Regions from separate parts of the Homo sapiens genome. Here region 2 is linked to region 1. Evidence: fine-mapped expression QTL. A gene starts in region 1. The other region holds a variant in brackets. All regions are shown on one strand. Distances are between the middles of the regions.

Region 1 (5,246 bases):
GAGTCTTGCTCTGTCACCGAGCCTGGAGTGCAGTGGCGTGATCTTGGCTCACTGCAATCTCCGCTTCCCAGGTTCAAACAATTCTCCTGCCTCAGACTCCCGAGTCACTGACACTACAGGTATGTACCACCACACCTGGCTAATTTTTTGTATTTTTAGTAGAGATGGGGTTTCACCATGTTGACCATGCTGGTCTCGAACTCCTGACCTCATATGATCAACCTACCTCGGCCTCCCAAAGTGCTGGGATTACAGGTGTAAGCCACCGCGCCTGGCCTGAAATACTAGTCTTATTTTAAGTGAATCCACTCTAATAGCTTTTTCCAGTACATCTTATCCTTGGATAATGAACATCTGCCCTACACAGTAGTCCCCCTTTATCCACGGTTTCAGTTATCCAAGGTCAGCTGTGGTCCAAAAACATTACATGGAAAATTTCAGAAGAAAATAGTTCGTAAGTTTTAAGTAGCATGATGAAATCTTGAGCCATCTAGCTTCCTCCTACCCAGGGTATGAATCCTCCCTTTGTCCAGCATATGGACTCTGTATAAGCTCCCCACGCTTTAGTCAACAGCTGTCTTGGTGACCAGATCGACTGTCACAGTGTGGTGATGCTTGTGTTCAAGTAACCCTTATTTTACTTAATAATGGCTCCAACAAGAGTGAAACTCCGTCTTAAATAATAATAATAATAATGGCTCCAAACCACTAGAGTAGTGATGCTGGCAATTCAGGTACGTCAAAGAGAAGCCCTAAAGTGCTTCCTTTAAGTGAAACGGTGAAAGTTCTCCACCTAATAGGAAAAAAAAAATCACACGCTGAGGTTGCTAAGGTCTATGGTAAGAACGGATCTTCTATCAGTGCAGTTGTAAAGAAGTAAAAAATTCATGGCAGTTTTGATGTCACACCTCAAACTGCAAGTTACAGCCACAAGGTATAAGTGCTTAGTTAAGCCAGAAAAGGTATTAAATTTGTGGAGACAAGAACAGAAAAAGTGTTCCAACTGACAGCAATGTGTTATGCCAAAAAGCACTGGGCCTATGAGAAGATTCAGCAAGGGATTCCTTGAAATGAGCATTTTGTTATTAAAGTGATTGTTCTTTTATTATTGTTGTTAATCTCTTACTCTGCCTAATTTATAAATTAAACTTTATCATAGGCAAGTATGTATAGGAAAATAGCATGTATAGGGTTCAGTACTATCCGAGGTTTTAGGCATCCACCGAGGGTCTTGGAACGTGTCCACCACGGATAAGGGGGAACGATTATGATATCAGCTCACCTAGAGTGAGGAAGCTACAGCAAACATCAGTTTGTTCAGTTATAACAAAGAAGAGTAAGAGACAGGAATTAAACATTATAACATTATAACCTACCCAATGTTTACAATCTATTATTCCTTGCTTCCTAATAGTATTAGCAAGGAACACTTTAAAACAAAAAAAAAAGTCCTGTGCGCTTAACTCAGGAAGGAGTTAAGGGTAGCGAGCTAGGGAGACTGCAGCCAACCTGAGAGGAGGGTGAAGCTTTAAGATAAAAGAAAGTTGAGTTCCTGAAGCCTAAACCAGAAAAGGTTAGGCAGCACTGGCCTAGCCCTAAGGAAGAGCATTGGTGGAATAAATCAGCAAGCTGTATTTGGTTTATCAACTAAGAAAGCAAGTCCTTTCATCTCAGGTCCAGCACTTAAACTGTCATACCCAAACCATCTACTACAGCATTTACTACTGAAGGAGCTCCAATAGAACACAAGAGAATGTTTTCTTGGGTAGTGAGAGGAGGTAGGAGGTGCATTCTGAAATATTACCCAAATAAAAGTTTCTGGAAGACACCCTTTCCCTTCAATTTCTAGTTGACCTTGGTAAAAACTGTCGCGAACTATGAATAGAAACATGCACGGAGGAAGTAAGTGCACAATAAACATTTCATTTCAACACAGATGAAGCACCTAGTCATGCCACATTTATGGAGCGCCTACTGTGTGCTAAGTAGGCAAAGTGCTATATTGACCCCAGGGATACGCAGAAAAAAACACGGCGGGGCCTCAAAGAGCTGTCAAACACTTAACAGCCTGTGATTAGCCCTTCAGGAGGGGTCTCTAGCTTGGTCTGGAAAGTTAAACTTGAGATTCCTAGAATCTTGCAAAACTGATAGAAGCTCCCAGATCAAGTAGATAGCGAGACAGACTCTCCGGCCAAGTGCGCAGTGGCAGGCGCGGAAGTGCGAGCCGGCAGGACCGCCAGGCACCAGCCGCGCGGGCGTGGGCAGCACAGCCGCAGTTCCCTTCCACTGCAGGTCCCGAAGCCGCTGATATTCCAAACGAGGAAGTGTAAGGAAAGCACTATCCTCGGTCTAGCCGCAGGCGGCATCACCATCAGTCAGCCTCTATCCTAAAAGCTCTGGCCATTCAGCGGGAATCATCGCCTTCACTTCCTGCAGTAGGGTGGCTAAGTTTAGCAAACAAGAATGCAGGACGCCCGGTCAAATTAGAATTGTAACCAAACACCAGAAAACTGTTCCGTTTTTCCTATGTCCACTGCAGTATTTGGGACACACTTGGACTAAGAATCATTCGCTCTTTCAGAGAAATTCCAATTGATTGCGGCGTCTTGTATTTTATGTAGCAATTCACAGAGGGATGGCCTAAGTGAACATGAGTGAAGTATTTTCAACGCGAGAGTCACAGGCTCCTGAAGTCAGCACAGCCGCGGAGGGCACCCTTCCCTGCCCATCCCTCGAGCGCCTCTGCGTGTTATGACTCAGAGCCCACGCGCTAGTACGCCTCGCCCACCCGGCGCCGGGGCAAAGGGGCACCTCCGCCCACCGCTTTCTCCAGACCCCCGCAAGGCCTGCGCACCACGCCGCGGCACTCCTGCCCGCTGACCCCGTACCCAGAGGCCGCAGCTGCCGCAGCTCCCGCAGCTCCCGCCGCCCTGTCAAGCCAGCCTGCCGAGCCGCTCCTGCTCCAAACCAGCCGCGTCCCCGCCAGCGCCGCGCGGCGCCAAATCATGGTCAGAGCCCGGATCTGCAGCGAGCTCTACTGCCGGACACCGCGGATCCCGGGAGCCCGCCTCCTCCGGCCCGGCCCCCGCCTTGCCCCGCCCCGTCCCGCCCCTCCGGACTGCCCGCGCCGCCGCCGGTCACCTCCTCGCAGCTGAGCGCGTCCTCCCAGGGCTGCCCGAGCGCTGGATTCCAGCGAGTGCCACCCACGTGTAAACATCCTTTAGAGGGGAGAAGCGGCTCACTTGCTTATCTCGAGGGTTCATCCGAGCCCCGCCTCTGGATTCTTTTAGGTTTAGGGACGCTCATAAAGGCTCCCAGGCACTTGGAAGCAGTGCATGAGGATGGTGGCAGACATGCTGGGGAAACGGAGGAGAAAAAACATGACCATCCAAAACAGAATCAAAGTGGTGCCTCAGATGTTTCCAACTACCTGTTACACAAGTTTTTGTGTGGATGAAATAAGAGCCTAAATATATCCTCTTATAATTAGGCAATTGGTCGAGACCCAATGTAAATTATGGGGATATTGGGGTTTACATCCATAATTAAAAGAAAAAATCCGGTGTTGAAGGTTTACTCCAAAGAAGACAAAGATTATTTCCCACCACCTGCCAAAAAAAAAAAATTAGGAAACAAAACAAAAGAAATTAGCACAGAGATGTTTCACCATGGCTTTGGAAATGGGCGATTGCTGTTGACAGGATTATTTAAGCCACTCAGTGGTGGTAATAATAGCCTTTGTGCGTCACTATTTAAGGTTGGGGGTAAGCCTTTATTTACTGAGGACACTGAAATTCATCTTAAAGTCAAAGGTCAAATGGTACATCTAAAATTCTAAACAATTATTACAACAATCCAGAGCTTTTTTGATTCTTCATGTTCAACTAAGTGTAAAATTCATGTTACCAAAGTACAAAATAAGAACTTGTATTTCTGACAGTTCTTTTCCAACATTCAAATGGGCTATGTTTGATTACTTAATAAAAGGATGGAAGTTAGTTGCAAAAATAAATACCCCCAAAGGGTAGGAATTCATTCTTTTTAAAGACAAATTTGACTTTGAAAATTAAGGCATGTGGCCAGGCGCGATGGCCTGTCCTGTAATGTGGCCATTACAGGACTGCCCGCTGACCCCGTACCCAGAGGCCGCAGCTGCCGCAGCTCCCGCAGTGGCCAGTCCTGTAATCCCAGCACTTTAGGAAGCCGAGGCGGGCGGGTCACCTGAGGTTGGGGGTTCAAGACCAGCCCCTCCAATATTGGTGAAACGCCGTCTCTACTAAAAATACAAAATTAGCCGGGCGTGGTGGCGCATGCCCGTAATCCCAGCTACTCGGGAGGCTGAGGCAGGAGAATCGCTTGAATCCATGAGGCAGAGTTTGCAGTGAGCCAAGATCACACGATTGCACTCCAGCCTGGGCAACAAGAGCAAAACTCCGTCTCATAAAAAAATAAATAAATAAAATAAAATAAAAATTAAGGTATGTTATCTATCTATAGTGTTGTGGGCTTTTTAATTTTTTTATAAAACTATTTTGGAAATTTATGGTGTTATGTTAGTTTTGAAGTCAAATTTTACCTCATCTCAAATTGTTTTATGAAATAAAGATCATTATGAGGTGAACCGATCATGTTACAATTTAATTTTAATACAGCATAGATGGACTATTATCAAGCACAGAATTCACTGGACAGATTTTTTTAAGGATTTCAGAATGTAAAGTACTTCAGAAGAAAGTGTTATGCCTGAATTCAGCATAATATATTAATAAATATATTGATAATTTTCAACTTCTTTGTGCTTCGTGGGGTAGCTACAGAAGTGATTATTATTTTTGGTCATAGTTGTGATGACTGCAATAGCAAGTTAAGAAATATGTCAGCAGACAGTAGAACGGTGGTTGCCAGGGCCTGGGAGAAGGTGGAAATGGGGAGATGTTGGTCAAAGGGTACAGAGTTTCAATTATGCGAGATAGGTAAGTTCTAGAGAGCTAAAGTACAGCAATGTGACTATAGTTAGGAAAATCGCAATGTATGCTTGAAATTTGCTAAGAGGGTAGATCTTGTGTTCTCACACTTGCACACAAGAAAGAAAATGGGGCCAGGTGCGGTGGCTCACGCCTGTAATCCCAGCACTTTGGGAAGCTGAGATGGGTGGATCAACTGAGGTCAGGAGTTCAAGACCAGCCTGGCCAATATGATGAAACCCCATCTCAACTGAAAATACAAAAATTAGCCGAGCATGGTAG
Region 2 (5,246 bases), 150 kb after region 1:
TAGAATCATTTGGAGAGTTTTTAAAAATATCCATGCCTGAATCTTGATTCCCATTTTCATGTAATTTGAGACAAGACCTGGTCATCAGTATTTTTTTTAAAGTTCTCCAGGTAATTTGAATGTGCAGGAAGGATTCAGAATCACTGGTTTAATTTGTTATTGAAAACAGTACCAGTATTAAATGTGTTTCCTCTTCCTTCTTTTCTGTATGTATGTGTGGTTTTTGATTTTTTGTTGTTGTTGTTGTTTTGTGGCCACCCTTTGCACTAGACCATCCCTTTTATTGGTGGTATTGGCCTATATTCCCATTGACAAATGCAATTTTTAATTATTTATTTAATATAGGAGTATTTTACTGTTTAATATTTAAACAATGTTTAATGTATTTCATTATTAACTAGTATTATAGTTTGTTTTTTTCCCATGTCTCCATAACTTTTACTAACATTTGTTTTTAGCAGCACAACAGTAATCCATATAAAAACAACTAATTCATAATGAGGAAAATCTCATAATTTTTAAGGCAGAAAGAAGTATTAATTTTTGATCTGCCATGTAGAATGAGACAAATACAGTTTGCTTATGAAAGGAAAGTGGCATACTTTTAAATTGGTCTACACAGAAAAGTAAAAGTAAACTATTCATTTAAATAAGATTCATTATCTAATAAATATTGAGGGAATATTTTTCCTAAATAAAAATTTTTCTGACTGCTAACAAAAATTAAAGTGATTACATTGTTCTTTTTTGGAGGGGTGGGGAGGAATATTTGTTGAACTAAAGTATATAAAATTTTTTGAGACTAGCAGTATATTTTATAATATTACAAATACAACAATTATTTATAAAAGCTAGTCAAATTAATGGCTTAGAAAGTAGCTGTAAACTTTGTGTTTTGAAATTGCTTGTTTAAATGCAAAATTATGAGTAAGATAAGTCTTTTTAAATTTTTTATTTTTAATTTTTTTGGAAGTTTATTAAAGCCCTTCATATACACATACTTTTTAAAAAAAGATTCTTAATAAAGAAATTATTGGTTTGTCTGGTTAAAGTCCATATAGAATGCTGAGAAATAATTTATAAAATAAGAACTATAGAAATTTGTTCTCAGCTGAAAAGTTGGCAGCTGCTCTGTTTCTTTAAAAAAGTACAACATGAAAATTTAATTACATTAGCCTTAATATTACTTGACTGAATTTCTACTATTTATTCACTTGTGTTTGAGATTCACCCAGCTATTCTAATGATAGAAATAAAAAGTGGAGAAATGACTAAAGTTGACTTAAGTTAAGAATTGGAGTGGGAATTTTGAAATGCCATGTCCTATATATTCTGGCATATTTGTTGGCACATTTGCAAGTATGTTGATCCCAGCATTGTTTATATCTGTTGGAATAATAACTAAGGAAAAATTGAAAATGTATAATAGATGTATAAAGATTTATATTTAGTTAGTATATAATAGATAATACTTGCAGGTTTTTTATGTGTTTTGGGTTTCTGTGTATTATTTTAGGTAATCTTTATAAGGGCATCTTGGAAGTTATAAATATGTGCCATTTACTGAAAAGTGGGAAGCATTTTTATATGAGTAAAGCTAATGAAATAAAACTAGTTTTATTGCCAAAATTCAAAAAGTGGGGTTCATGCTATGTCGAATTTAAGCAAATGATCTGTCTGAGGATTTTGTTTGCCATTGAATTCCATTTCTGTCCACTTTAAATTTACTAAAAGCTATTTAACCTGAGTTTGATTATAATGCTTCATAAGTAATGCAGTTCATGTACATAGAGTAAGTGCTGTAAGTGATTTTTTAACCACCAGTTGGTGCTGTTTCTCAAAGTGGTTCTTAATTAGAGTTTAAGTTTGGGTGCCATGTGAACTCATAAAATATTCTACTCATTCTTTTTGTTTTTCTTTGTTTTGTTTTCTTTGTTTTATTTTTCATTCTGTTTGTTTTTCTTTGTTTGTTTTTGAGATGGAGTCTCACTCTGTCACCCAGGCTGGAGTGCAGTGCTGCGATCTTGGCTCACTGCAGCCTCCACCTCCTGGGTTCATGCAGTTCTCCTGCCTCAGCCTCCCGAGTAGCTGGGATTATGGGTG[T/C]GCACCACCACACCTGGCTATATTTGTATTTTTTAGTGGAGACAGAGTTTCACCATGTTAGCCAGGCTGGTCTTGAACTCCTGACCTCAGGTGATCCACCTGCCTCGGCTTCCCAAAATGTTGGGATTACAGGCGTGAGCCACCATGCCTGGCCTGTTCTGTTCATTCTGATTCCAGTTTGGTGGGCTCTTAAATTTTAGGTTCAATTGTAAATAAAACATGTTGCCCTATTTTGTTTTAAGAGCACTAGGGACATTTCCATTCTCCCTTTGTCCTCAATCCCCCAAAAACATTCATACGAAGAAGTTAGAAGCTGTATTGTGGGCTGGAATGCTATCTTTACATGAAAAGATTATTGGGATTTGTCAGGCATAGTATTTCTCTGAGGAATAAATGAAATATAAATTTCACTTTGGAAACTAATGAGTTAAAACCATTTACAGTTTCTGTTAACGAGTTAAATAATGTATAGAATCATAGTTCGTAATGGTAGCAAGTTCATGCTCTGCTGAACTTACTGTTTGATTATGGTCAAATTTTCTATGTTATTATTATAGTAGAATTAAGAGTGTGTCCTGGTAAATTACATTACCTTCACAGTTTGAGCATTCTGATTTTAACATTTTGTAGTTTCAAAACAAACTGTACTCATATAATCAGAGCATTAACAGCAGCATCATGTCAGTGGTACCAATAATTGTGAATCTTCTGCAACAAAATTTCTTTAATGATGAGTTTAATGGGCTATATTCAAACCTAATTTTTATTCAATTCATAAGTGCCCACTAAATATGTATTTTATTTCTGCTGTTCTGTTCCTTTGATTATCTGCTTTTCAGTGAGCATCTGCATAGCTAAAATAGATATAGCATGTGTTGTAAATGCTGTTGAATTTTTTTAAGGCTCAAAGGTGCTAGTATATAAATAACAGCACATTGCCAAATAAGCATTTTTTCTTTCATTTTCTGAAGTACTTTCATATTTACTCATGTAATTATCAGCATTTATGGTGAGTTGGAATAATTTTTCCTCTTTATTTTCTTAAATGACCCTAGAAAACAATGTAAAGTAGCTCTGAAGAAGGCTTTGTTGTTGAATCTGTCTCATAATTACTTGTGGATCCTTTGACACAGAATTATTTATAGTTTATAATTCACCCTCATCTAGAGAATGATGATTTCTATTACATAAGTAATGTAAATAGAGCTGAGACCATAGTGAAGCAGAAGACATTTGGGAGATACTTTTGATTACATTTGGATATTTTATTGGACTATGATTATTTTGCCAACAAAGTACAAGTCAAAACATTGGGTTATACAACATATTCACTTTAATAAAATATAGTAATGGATACTCACAGAAGAACTGCCTTCATGGAGTTCACAATGTTAATACTCTAAGTGTAATGGCCATCTATTTCTCTCTTTTTAATAATACAAACATTTTTCTTTAAAATGGAATAGTTTGAAAGTGTTTATCGAGTCAGTGTAAATGGGGGGAGATCAAGTGAACTTCCTTGTGGCTCATTCAGTTGTTTTAGCACAATTAAGCATCACTAATGTTTTTAAAGGGCTTGACTATATCACAATTTTAAAATATTTATATTTTTAGATAATATATTTTTATTCCATAATGCACTACTGAGGACAAAAAGGAAGTGTAAGGGTCACTGATGATGAAATAAATTTGAGATGCATTAAAGTAGTTTAAGGCTAAAGCAGTTTGATGTAGGAATTTGAGGAGAAGACGACTTCAGCTTAATGGGAAAATACTAATTTGGACAGCGTTATATGCTTCTGGGGTTGTCATGAATTTAAGAAAAGCTAGGCAAACCTAGTGTGATTTTTCTCCAGTGACATTTAGTTGCTTGATTTCAGGTATAGAGAATTGCAGTTAGATTTTTAAGCTATTTTGATGGCAGTAGAAGCAGGCCAGGGAGTTGGAGATATTTTCAAGGTAATAATTGTAGTACTGAAACATGGAATCTAAGCTGTTCAAGGAATACATGATAGAGGGAAGGTGGTGAATGGTGAGAAAGTGGTGCTGTCCTGTGAACTGATAACAACAATGAAGTGAGCCTGAAAGATAGGGGGAGGTGGTCAGAGGATGGGATGTGTGAAGTCAAGACTTCAGAGGTGATCTGATATTGATGAGAAAAAGTCAAGACCTTGGAAGTAACTGAGATAGAGAGGGTGAGGTATTCATTAAAATGAGGAGTCAAGGATCTATGGGGCTGCAATTACTCGTGTAAGTGTTGAAATGAGAATGACAAGCATAGGAGTGAGAAGAAAGATGGCAACAAGGAGAAGGTAACCGGTGACTGGTTGGCATTAGCTTTACAGGATCCATGCTTTAAAAACTTTGATTAGATATTTAAAGATGAATATTTAAAGATGAAAATATATTTAAAGATGAATTAATAAAATGTTAAAGGTATAGATCATTTCAGTGCCTTTCTCCAACATCCAAATTGTTAAAGAATTACATACTTGTCCCATTAGCCCAGATGATGAAGACTTTTACTAAGACACTATTGACAGCCTTCCCACCCTCTGAGTCTTGTTTTCTAAGTTTGCTCTCATGTGAGGCTAGTTCTTGTATTCTTTGCTACTTTTGTCGCTTAATGATACTGAAAGTGGTTAAAACCTTTGTTGGAAAATCTGAGCTATGCCCTCTAAGGTTTCATTAAGTGCTGGGGTCACTTGCCCCAGTTGGGGGGTCACTTCCCCCAGTTGTATGTGCAATTCATTACTAAGAGAGAATATCCTGAGCAGTTCCCAATGGTGGGTGGCTGGCTAAAAGGAATCCCTGGAGATTTTAGTGTGGTAGGAAAGCATTTTCATTCTTGAGGATTTTTCTTTGACTTTTCTATGGGCTGGCTGATTTCCTCAGTTTGCTTTGTTCTGGGTTTTAGGGGAGAATTCTTGGGAGGTTGTGAATTTTCTTTGCCTACAGTGAGATGGTTAGATGCTATTCTGAACTTTATCTAGATCTTACCCAAATCCATTTCCATGTTAGCAAGCATGAAGTTGTTTACCTTTTCTTTTTTGGCGATTGATGTTGAGTTTTTCGTTCTCACTCACTCCCTTGCCAGTTCCTTAGATGTTATGATCCAGCTATGACCCAGCTTTACACTTTCT

What was found. PIP is the estimated chance that this variant, and not a neighbour inherited with it, causes the effect. A credible set is the group of variants that fine-mapping cannot tell apart.
Region 2: its variant is the best candidate, but not a certain one, in a credible set for the expression of GLRX2 in whole blood (TOPMed, PIP 0.63).

The regions. Positions count from the first base shown.
Region 1 is chr1:193,102,376-193,107,621 of GRCh38, forward strand. It overlaps GLRX2 (glutaredoxin 2), which reads right to left and starts at 3,039. Exons shown (of 4, transcript NM_197962.3): 1 at 2,889-3,039. The coding sequence starts at 3,007. RefSeq lists silencers at 2,828-2,927, 2,904-3,198, 2,978-3,217.
Region 2 is chr1:193,253,179-193,258,424 of GRCh38, forward strand. It overlaps CDC73 (cell division cycle 73), which reads left to right. Exons shown (of 17, transcript NM_024529.5): 17 at 1-1,637. Among named protein-coding and RNA genes, the nearest start is that of LINC01031, 49 kb to the right of the region's middle. The variant T/C (reference allele first, on the strand shown) is at 2,104.